2 separate regions of the Homo sapiens genome follow, and region 2 is linked to region 1. Evidence: fine-mapped expression QTL. A gene starts in region 1. The other region holds a variant in brackets. All regions are shown on one strand. Distances are from middle to middle.

Region 1 (5,379 bases):
TTACAGTCTGTTTACACCTCCAGTCAGGTTACAGTTCACTGTGTATGGAGAAACATTTAGACCAAACTTAAAATATGTAAGGAGGCAGCTTTAGGCAAAACTTAATTTAACAATTGCCCCCTTTTGGTCAACCTCTCAGTTTTGATTGGCCAAAACTTTAGACATTGATGTCACTCTGTCACCATTGTCAGTGTACTTATTTGGTCTCAAATCTCAGTGGGAAATAGCAAAACAGTGAGTTTTTAAATGTGAGAACCAGGACTTCAGGTTTGTTTTTTTTTTGTTTTGTTTTGTTTTTTTTGGTAAGGGTTAGAACAGAAGGGACCTCTTTATGCTGGAATCTCCTGTTTTCAGGTGAGAAAAAAAAACTGGTCTGTTTTTGTTGTAACCAAGAAAATGCTGAATCAGGAAAGTAGTAATCTAAAAATGGCAGCAAAGCTTTGCAGCTTCCTTAGTTTCATTTTGATTATGTCTCATTTAGCATGAGTGACTCCATTTTGATTTGGTCTGGTCTGTTGGGGCCTAGTGCAGAAAGAGGTCTGATCTGATTTGGCCTAGGTCCAAAACAATGGCCTCTCATAATTTTAACAGCAAGATGAAAAGAATTACAGAAGTGGGTGGCGGTGCTGGTTGCACAACATTTTAAGTGTATTTAATACCTCTGAACTGTATACTTAAAAGTGATTAGGATGGTAAATTTTATGTTATGTGTATTTTACCACAATTTAAAAAGTAAACCCAGTAGCAGCGGCTCCTGCCTATAATCCCAGCAACTTCAGGCGCTGAGACAGGAGAATTACTTGAGCCCAGAAGTTCGAGATTGCAGTGAGCTATGATCACACCACTGTACTCCAGCCTGGGTGACAGAGCCAGACCCCAGTTCACAAAAAATAAATAATTAAAAATTAAAAAAAAAAAAGAGGTGCCATTACCTCTAACTGTGGCGTCTCTTGAGCGTGATTTTGAGAGGAAGCCAGTGAGACCAAGAACCCACCAATTCCGGACACAATTTCAGGCCTCACTCTAGCCAGAGTTGCCGGGCTCTTGGGTATGGGCAGGTCCTGTTTTTCCTGCTTCTGCAGCACCAGGGCAATCTACTTGATATGGGAAAAGCTCCCTTGTCCCCCTCGCAGGGTGTGTGATGAGGTGTGGCTCGATTCTTCAGTGCCCTGCTGCTCAGACCTCTAGGGGAGCATACAGGCGGGCAGGCTGTGGGGCTCCGATCGCACAGCAGTGTCTAGGGGTGAATATTTACAGCTCCTGAAGCCCCAGTGGGCGGGCGTGTGTTACAGGATGCTCTTTTAGGTTGCCATCTATAGGCGGTTTGTGTTAGCTCAATTACACCCCCTTTCTTATCACAAGGACAGAAGGATTTCTGTATCCTGGGGTTTCTTGCCCTGGCTTACCTGAAGAATCGGATTACACGTGGGCTTGGAGAATGAGTGCAAGGTTTTATTGAGTAGAAGTAGCTCTCAGCAGATGGGGGAGCCAGAAGGGAGATGGTTTTCCCCTGGAGTCGGGCCCCTTGGCGGCCCAGGCTCTTCTCTGACTGCCCCGTCAAACTCCGCATCATTCTGCTGGTGCATGGCCTGCCGGTGGTGTGTCGGTGCCTGTCGTTGTGTGCTCTTCTGCTGGCATGCTCCTCTCAACGTCCTCTCGAGGACCAGCCACTTGCGTCTTCTTCTGCTAATGTGCTCCTCTCCATGTCTGGCTGGCTGTGTGTCTGCCCACTAGGGTCTTGGGAGGTTTTGTTTTGTTGTTGTTGTTGTTGTTGTTGTTGTTTTTGAAGGAGTCTCTGTCGCCAGGCTAGAGTGCAGTGGCGCAATCTCTGCTTACCGCAACCTCCACCTCCCGGATTGAAGCGATTCTCCTACCTCAGCCTCCCGAGCAGCTGGGACTACAGGCGCGCACGCCATCACGCCCAGCTAATTTTTGTATTTTCAGTAGAGTCAGGGTTTCGCCATGTTAGCAAGGCTGGTCTCGACTTCTTGACCTCGTGATCTGCCCGCCTCGGCCTCCCAAAGTGCTGGGATTACAGGCATGAGCCACCGTGCCCGCAGTCTTGGGTTTTCGTAGGTTCAGGATCGGCGTATGGCGGGCCAGGGAGGTCTTAGAAAATGCAACATTTGAGCGGGAAAGCAGGAATGGGGTTCGTCGGGGAGGAGCCTTAGCCAGGGACCCGCCTTTCTCTACCCAGCACTTCCCTTCCTCCATTCCGCATCATTTAAAGGGACCACGCTTTTCCCTTCCCAGCACTCCATATCATACTGACCTCACTCCTCCAGTCCTGTGAGCAGGACCCAACAAATAAGTAGTATGAGAAATAAAGCTTAGCATCTCTATTTGAAAACACAGGAAAAATTGGGGGCAAAAGTTGTGTTCCATATTGGAATTTATTTGAATTGTCACATCCAGTGTCACTTCTCTTTTGATATATGTCAAGAGCAATAACTATGAAATATTACATATAATTGTTTCCATTCTAAGCAATTGAACCAATGTTCAGCTAATAGCATTAGTGAAAGAGAACACTGCCTGAGCAATGTAAAATAGCGGCTGATATAAACATTACTAGTATTTGGCTTTGAAATATGCTTCTTATAAAGACTTAGATTTACACATGGCAGATTTGATCTCAAAAATTCCAGCAAGACTAGGTGCCATGGTGGCTCATGCCTGTTATCCCGGTGCTTTAGGAGGCTGAAGTAGGAAGATCACTTGAGGTCAGGAGTTCAAGACCAGCCCTGGTAACGTAGCAAGACCCCATCTCTACCAAAAAAATTCAAACAAAATAAAATAGAAGCGTAACTCAAGAGAATTGGGAGGCGGTCTTGCCTCGTTATCCTGGCGTTTACTTCCCACCCCTCTGCCTACTGGCTGCTGGCTGGCAAAGATTGCTAGTGCTCCTAATGGATGCAACTCACAAGGTCAAACTTTTGCCTCCCAATCTTTCCTGACTCAGAGACTTTCATTTTGTGTTTTGTTTGGGATTGATTTAAAGTGCTTCTCTCGCTAATGTGTAAGTTTCATGTAAAAATCAGTGTAAAAATAGAAAACTGAAAGGTCAAATTAAGTATTGTGAATAATGCAAGTGCTGTTAAAATTAAAAGCAAGATTTGCTGGAAGTGATGTGCCCTAGATTGATAGTAGATGGAATCTATTTGTATACCTCGCAGATTATTATGTGTGAGTGTATTGTTCATTTGTCGACCATCATAGACTGGCTTCCTTCTTCTACTTAACCTGTTTTCATTTAGTTTCTTTTTTTTGAGACGGAGTCCCTCTGTCGCCCAGGCTGGAGTGCAGTGGCATGATCTTAGCTCACTGCAACCTCCACCTCCTGGGTTCAAGCGATTCTCCTGCCTCAGCCTCCCGAATAGCTGGGACTACAGGCACGTGGCACCACGCCCGGCTAATTTTTTGTATTTTTAGTAGAGATGGGGTTTCACCGTGTTAGCCAATATGGTCTCGATCTCCTGATCTCGTGATCCGCCCACCTCGGCCTCCCAAAGCGCTGGGATTACAGGGGCGTACCACCACACCTGGCTAATTTTTTGTATTTTTAGTAGAGATGGGGTTTCACCATGTTAGCCAGGATGGTCTCGATCTCTTGACCTTGTGATCCGCCCACCTCGGCCTCCCAAAGTGCTTGGATTACAGGCGTGAGCCACTGTGCTCCACCTATTTAGTTTCCTTATGGCAGGTCTTGGTGGTATTATGGAGCCAGACAGACCAGACTTCAAACCCCAGTAGCAATGCCACTTACAAGCTGCGGGAGCTTAGGAACTTGGCTTATTGTCAGTTTTGACCCTTACTTGTGCCACCTCAAAATGGCATTAATCACACCTCCTTGATAAAACTGTTACAGGATTAGTGATTCCATGTGTATTAATAAGAGCACATTATCTGTTCCATCTTCTTTTATCAATTTTGCAATAACTAATACAGCAACATAAATATTGTGATTATTTTCTTTGGCAGTAAGTTTTGTACTGATAAAGTTAAATAGAATTATTTTATTGGATTTGGGGAGTAAAGAAAAGCTTTTAAAGGGAGAGATTTTAAAAAAACAGCTTTTAAACTAAGCACAAGTAGTTATTTAAGTCTTGCATAGTTATTTCCTCCATTTTGAGTATGATTCATCCTTCTTGCTTAATCATGTGTGGGTTTGAATTTCTTTCTGGAGTAGCTTCTTTATATAGACTACTTTAATAATACTGCTTGTTGTAAACCTACAGGATGCATTTACCTCTGGGAAGTTATTTAGGTCGCAGCTACACATTCAAAACGCTTCGATAATGGTGACCAAACTGATGCTGAATCATCATCAGTTGAGTGAATTTCTTGTGCCTGCAGTACCGTCCCTCATCCTTTAAGACTGGGTCTTGTGTCCACTTCTCTATGAAGCTTTCCTTCGTTCTCTAGAACCTTCTCTGAAAGGTCCAATCCAGTCAATGATTGCTCAGCCCTCAATTCCTATAATATATATTTCAACCCATCAATGTAGCTCTTAACTATATACTTTCACGTTAGTCTCCATTTTAGGTGGTTTCTGCTTTATTTATTTATTTAATTATTTATTTTTATTTTTTTAGACAGAGTCTTGCTCTTGTTGCCCAGGCTGGAGTGCAATGGCACAATCTCAGCTCACTGCAACCTCCACCTCCTGGGTTCAAGTGATTCTCCTGCCTCCGCCTCCTGAGTAGCTGGGATTATGGGCGCCTGCCATCATGCCTGGCTAATTTCTGTATTTTTAGTAGAGACGGGGTTTCACCATGTTGATCAGGCTGGTCTCGAACTCTTGACCTCGTGATCTGCCCGCCTTGGCCTCCCAAAGTGCTGGGATTACAGGCATGAGCCACCGCGCCCGGCCGGGTTTTTTTTGTTTGTTTGTTTTTTGTTTTTTTTTTTAGCTTTGAATAGATTATAAACTTCTCCAGAGCAGATACCATGAATGAGAGAGGTGAGAGTGTGATCCCGATGTAGGGCTATTGTGTTTTTGCTTTTTCTTAGTGCCTCCCACATAATTTGACACATGAAGAGAATTCAACATATTTCTTATGTGACTAACCACAAGCATTCATAAAAGGGAAGTTTTTGTGAAGTGGCTAGGCCTTTCTGGTCAACTCTGGTCTTTTAAATTTTTCGGTAATGTGGGAGGTAAATACTTTTAAGAACACAGGAAATTACCACGACACAGAATATTTGGTGATTTGTGAGGTGAATCAAGATGGAAAAGAAAACTTATCCTAATAACACAGACAGTGGGTGTGCACTCAGATTGCTTTCATGGTACATGAGGATGGCACATCTAACCACAGTCATGCTGCAAGCCAACAGGCCTACCATGTCTGGGTCACCTGCCGGAAATTATCATCG
Region 2 (5,379 bases), 390 kb after region 1:
TTCCTGTTTCCCAGGCTAGCCTAAACTCTTGGTCTCAAGCCATCCTCCCACTTCGGCCTCCCAAAATACTGGGATTACAGGCATGAGCCACTGCGCCCAGCCTTTAAACATATTCTTGTTATTCTTATGCGTATCTTACAAAGTGACACAATTTACCAAATGACCACTTTGAGGAACTTTAAATGTGACCAAAATTATCCATTTTAGGAACATCTTAAAACAAAAGAGCAAAAAAAGGGGGAAGTAGCAAATGTTTAATATTTAATTGTCAGCCTTTTATGACCGATATGAAGAACCTGAGAATCTAGAATAGTGCTTGGAAGCAATGGTCCCAATCTCCCTGATGTACATCACCTAGTACATGTATCTAGATGCTAACCCTACCTTAAAGAGTCCACTGGAAGGACCTGGGAAATAATCTATGTATTCCTGAGGACCAGCAAACAGAAAGGGACTTTTAAGAAGCACAAAATGTAGTGCAATCCTTACTGAAGGCAATACCTACTTTATTTTGAGTAGAGATTCTCTGGTCATTAATCCAGTTTTTTTGTGTTTGTTTTTTATTTTTTTTTTAAAGCAAATTCATTAAAAATTTTAGAAATTGCTGGGCATGATGGCTCACACCTGTAATCCCAGCACTTTGGGAAGCCAAGGCGGGCGGATCACTTGAGGTCAGAAGTTCAAGACCAGCCTGGCCAACATGGTGAAACCCCAACTGTATTCAGGGTGTTGGGTGCCTATTACCCAGCTACTCAGGAGGCTGAGGTGGGAGAATTTCTTGAACCCGGCAGGCGGAGGTTGCAGTGAGGTGAGATTGCACCACTGCACTCCAGCCTGGGTGACAGAGGGAGACTACGTCTCAAAAAAAAGAAAAGGTTTTAGAAATCACCTTCAGACAACAGTCTGGGATAGATCAATAGGCAGATGTTTTGCTACATTATCCTCATTGCTTATGAACGGCCTTTAGCCAAAATTCAGGGGTTTGGTACTTAAAGGCTAGAATAAGAAATAACTCCACTAACAGCCCTATAGCATGTGTCCAAATCTTCTGAGAAACTCTTAGAACAAAAGTAGAGTAAGATCCTAAACAACTTAACGGTTTTTCAAATTAAACAACTGGATGACCTCACAACCTCCACAATCCCCCCCAGCAAAATGCCCAGTGATAAGAATACTTGCTGCTACTCTGAACAAAAGAGACGATGGAAAACCAATTGTCTCACTTTGGGCAAAAAGGAATCTGACAGATAATGAGACAGTTCCAAGAGAGAAGATGGCATCCACTTCTGAGTCTTCCCTTAAAACTTGCAAGAAGATATCATTAACTCTTCTGGGCCACACTCAGGGTTAGGGGTGCAACATTTTCAACAACAACCCTGCCACTAAGTTCACTTCTTGTCCTTGGAGTCAGCAAAAACCAAGAGGTGGATGTCTCCATCTGCCTGGCCACTCCCTGTATCCTGGCCACTGTTATTCTTGGTCTTTTTACTAAAAACACCCTTCTCTTGTGACATCACACCAGCATAAACTTAATGAGGAGTCTTTATTATGAAAATGGAATCACCAGATTAAATTTTCCTAGAAGGGAGCTCTTCCTTGAAACTCATGAGGGTGTCTCTATTCATAATCAAATCATAGCTAATTTGGATACAGATACATAAACCAGACACAATTTGAAGATCTTTGTGAGGTACCAAGTCCTAATGAGCCAAAAATGTATCACCATTTTAGGATTACTGGGGCTGAGCACATCAAGGTTCAGACTGACCAGGTCCCAACCTTCACCCAGCCTTGTACAATTCCCTTGAAGCCAGAAGAAAAAAATTAAGGCCCATAGTAGAAGGACTAATAGGCAAAAGACTCATTATTCCTTGGACCAAACCTTCTCACGCTCCTATCCTGAGTATTAGGTAACTCAACGCATGAGTGCGCAGATTTATTCATGATCTTAGGGATATCGTTAAGATAATTATTCCCCACATTCCAGCAGTGCCAAGTCCAAATACTGGACTTTGTTCTTTCCCCCAGTCCCGCCCAAGGCCATCTATTTCACAGTTGTGCATCTATGTTCTTCCTTCTTTAGAACCTGTTCTCTGTCTTTTTTTCTTTTTTTTTTTTTTTTTCGAGACAGAGTCTCACACTGTCGCCCAGGCTGGAGTGCAGTGGCACGATCCCAGCTCACTGCAACCTCTGCCTCCTGGGTTCAAGCTATTCTCCTGCCTCAGCCTCCCGAGTAGCTGGGACTACAGGTGTGTGCCACCATGCCCAGCTGATTTTTTTTTTTGTATTTTTAATAGAGACGGGGTTTCACAATGTTGGCCAGGATGGTCTGGAGCTCTTGACCTCGTGATCCGCCCACCTCGGCCTCCCAAAGTGCTGGGATTACAGGCGTGAGCCACTGGCGCCCAGCGAACTTGTTCTCTTAAATCAATGCCTGTTCTCCTGTCCTTAGGAGAACCCACAGTACATGTGGATTGTTATGCCTCAGAGATTCACTGTGGTTCCTTACTTTTTATAAGTTCTTAGGCCAGGCGTGGTGATGGCTCACCCCTGTAATCCCAGCACTTTAAGAGGCTGAGGCGGACAAATCTCTTGAGGCCAGGAGTTTGAGACCAGCCTGGGCAACATGGTGAAACCTCGTTTCTACAAAAAATACAAAAAATTAGTTGGGTGTGGTGACACACACCTGTAGTCCCAGCTACTCGGGTGGCTGAGATGGGAGGATTGCTTGAAACTGGGAAGTCAAGGCTGCAGTGAGCTGAGATCACACCACTGTCCTCCAGCCTGGATGATGGAGTGAAACCCTGTCTCAATAAATAAATATAAATAAATAAATAAATAAATAAATAAATAAAATGAAATAAGCTCTTAATCAGAATCTCAAGGACCTTAAAGTTCTTCTATAGGATGAGCTTTTGCTAATCTCTGAAGATTAGAAAAGCACTAAAAATGAATTCTTTCTACCTTCTATTTTTGCACAAAAGGACACAGGTGCTCAAAAAACTTGAAGTTTTTTCAGAAAAAAGGTTCATTATCTAGATCATGATCTGTCTCAGGCAAGTCTCTTCCCTCTGATTGACTGAA[C/G]TTCCACTCAGAACTGCCCTAAACTCACCACTGAAAACTAATTGCTACGTCTCATGAGGGATTGTGGACAGGGAGCTCCCAACTTCTCTGCAATTACTTCTTCTTTAGGACCCGACTAAATTCTTGGTGACAGACTTGCCTCTCCTGGGAACACAGCATGAACAGACATTTTACACGCTAGAGCTAGCTCTTCAACAAACCCCATCCTTGACTGCTCTAACTTACCATAAACATTTCTCCAGGTTCATAGATGATCTGCTCAGGTCCTTGAGGTTTTAACTCAATGACAAGAAAACCACCCATGGGTTCCAGCCTGGCCAACATGGTGAAAACCCGTCTCTACTAAAAATACAAAAATTAGCCGGGTGTGGTGGCAGGTGCCTGTAATCCCAGCTACTCGGGAGACTGAGGCATGAGACTCACTTGAACCCAGGAGGCAGAGGCTGCAGTGAGCTGAGATTGCACCACTGCACTCCAGCCAGCCTGGGTGACAGAGTGAGAATCTGTCCCAAAAAAAGTCCCAAAACCAACAAAACAAAAACAAAAACAAAACCACCCATGGTTTACTGTAATGTCCCTGCTCCCTACTCTACTGGCAAAGGCCTATCTACCTTGTCTCAAGGCAATGGCAGTCATTGTCAACTCGGGGAGGCTTCTGCTTACTTAGTTTTGGGATCTCATGAACCCAATGGTCTCCCAAGTTGTATAATCACTGCTACTTAATCAAATGGACAACATTTCTAGCTGAGCCACCTTGCATCCTATGAAATATTGTTACAATATACTTACCTGACCAGGAAGATTCCATGATCATGAAGGTGGTTTTCCCAGGATGAGGCTTATCCATTGCACTCCAGATGTGCTGACCCTTGAAATTTCCCCAGATACAGGAAACTTGACTGCATTGAAAGGAAAGAAAGAAAGAAAGAAAAGGAAAGGAAAGGAAAGGAGGAAGGAAGGAAGGAGAAAGAAATAAAGAAAGAAAGAAAGAAAGAAAGAAAAAGAAAAGAGAGAGAAAGAAGAGGAAGAGGAAGAAGAAGAAGAAAAAAAGAAAAGAAGAAGGAGAAGAAAGAACAACTAATGCAATAATGCCCGGGTATGGGGGCTCACATCTGTAATCCCAGCACTTTGGGAGGTGCTGGGATTGGATGGATTACTTGAGGTCAGGAGCTCGAGACCAGCCTGGCCAACACGGCAAAACCTTGTCTCTACTGAAAATAAAAAAATTAGCCAGACTTGGTGGTGGACATCTGTAGTCCCAGCTCAGTCCTGGGCTGAGGCTTGAGAATCACTTGAACCTGGGAGTGCGAAGTTGCAGTGAGCTGAGATTGCGCCACTGCACTGCAGCCTGGGCGACAGAAAAAAGAAATATTGTTCTTTTCCCTATACATATGTCTGTCAATCACTGTGGTTATTTGAACTCTGCCATGCTCCTTCCATCTCAAAAGAAAAAATGCCAAACTGGCATTTGTCCAAGCCCCATGCAGATGTAATAGAAATACTTTTGGAGAGTCCATAATTGACCCTGATTGTTGATGGGTCAGATCTGCAGACAGAGGCAGGATATGATCAGTCTGACTTTGCCATAACAGATCTCAAATCACCCCTAGAATATGCATCGTTATAGCCCAGATGGCAGAAGCGATTGCTCTCACTGGAGCCTGCCAGCCAGCTGGAGAGAAGAGAGTTAGCATGCTCAGACAGATTAGTCTTGGGGTCATTTATAAAGTCTGGGTGCTCTGGAAACAATGAGGCTGTCTAACTTCAGTGGGGATTCCTATCAAGGTGGAACTTCAAAATACCTTAATGCTACCCAAGGAATAGGTAGTATCTAGGTCTAGAATGATCTAGATGCTAGGAGAAATGCCCTGTCTGATCACTTACCCTAAACAGGGGGCCCTTACAAAAATACTGGTCCATCGAGATAAGAAAAAAATTCCATGACCTTGGAGGGGTTCAAGGCGGCCATTACAGGATGCTAAAATTGGGCCTCCATATCAAAGAAAAAGTACTGAGGCAGATTTGGAGGTAAATACATGAAGATACTCTCTGGTGTTCCCAGGATGGTTTCTTGGAAGCACCAGAGTTTCTCCAGTGGAGAGGGCCTTGCTGAGGTCCCAGGTGGGACCACCCGCCAACACAGGGACACACTGGCTGCCATTGCAGACAACACTGTCCCTACCAGGCACGCCTCACTGGCTGTCAGTATATACTCTTGGCGAAAGCAAGCCATTAAGATGGGCATGGGCAGGAACCAAACTTCAAGGCCCATTTGAACTCCTCTAAATGGGTTTC

Direction of the effects. Alleles are on the strand shown, and positions count from the first base shown. SD is a standard deviation of normalised expression in the study named.
In carriers of allele G in region 2, the expression in sigmoid colon of the gene that starts at base 2,118 in region 1 tends to be higher than with C alone (small effect, 0.37 SD a copy in GTEx).

Evidence for each region. PIP is the estimated chance that this variant, and not a neighbour inherited with it, causes the effect. A credible set is the group of variants that fine-mapping cannot tell apart.
Region 2: its variant is the best candidate, but not a certain one, in a credible set for the expression of LINC03020 in sigmoid colon (GTEx, PIP 0.73).

Annotation. Positions count from the first base shown.
Region 1 is chr8:70,467,873-70,473,251 of GRCh38, reverse strand. It overlaps LINC03020 (long intergenic non-protein coding RNA 3020), which reads right to left and starts at 2,118. Exons shown (of 4, transcript NR_110653.1): 1 at 1,407-2,118.
Region 2 is chr8:70,076,519-70,081,897 of GRCh38, reverse strand. It overlaps the pseudogene RNU1-101P. Among named protein-coding and RNA genes, the nearest start is that of PRDM14, 8.0 kb to the right of the region's middle. The variant C/G (reference allele first, on the strand shown) is at 3,085.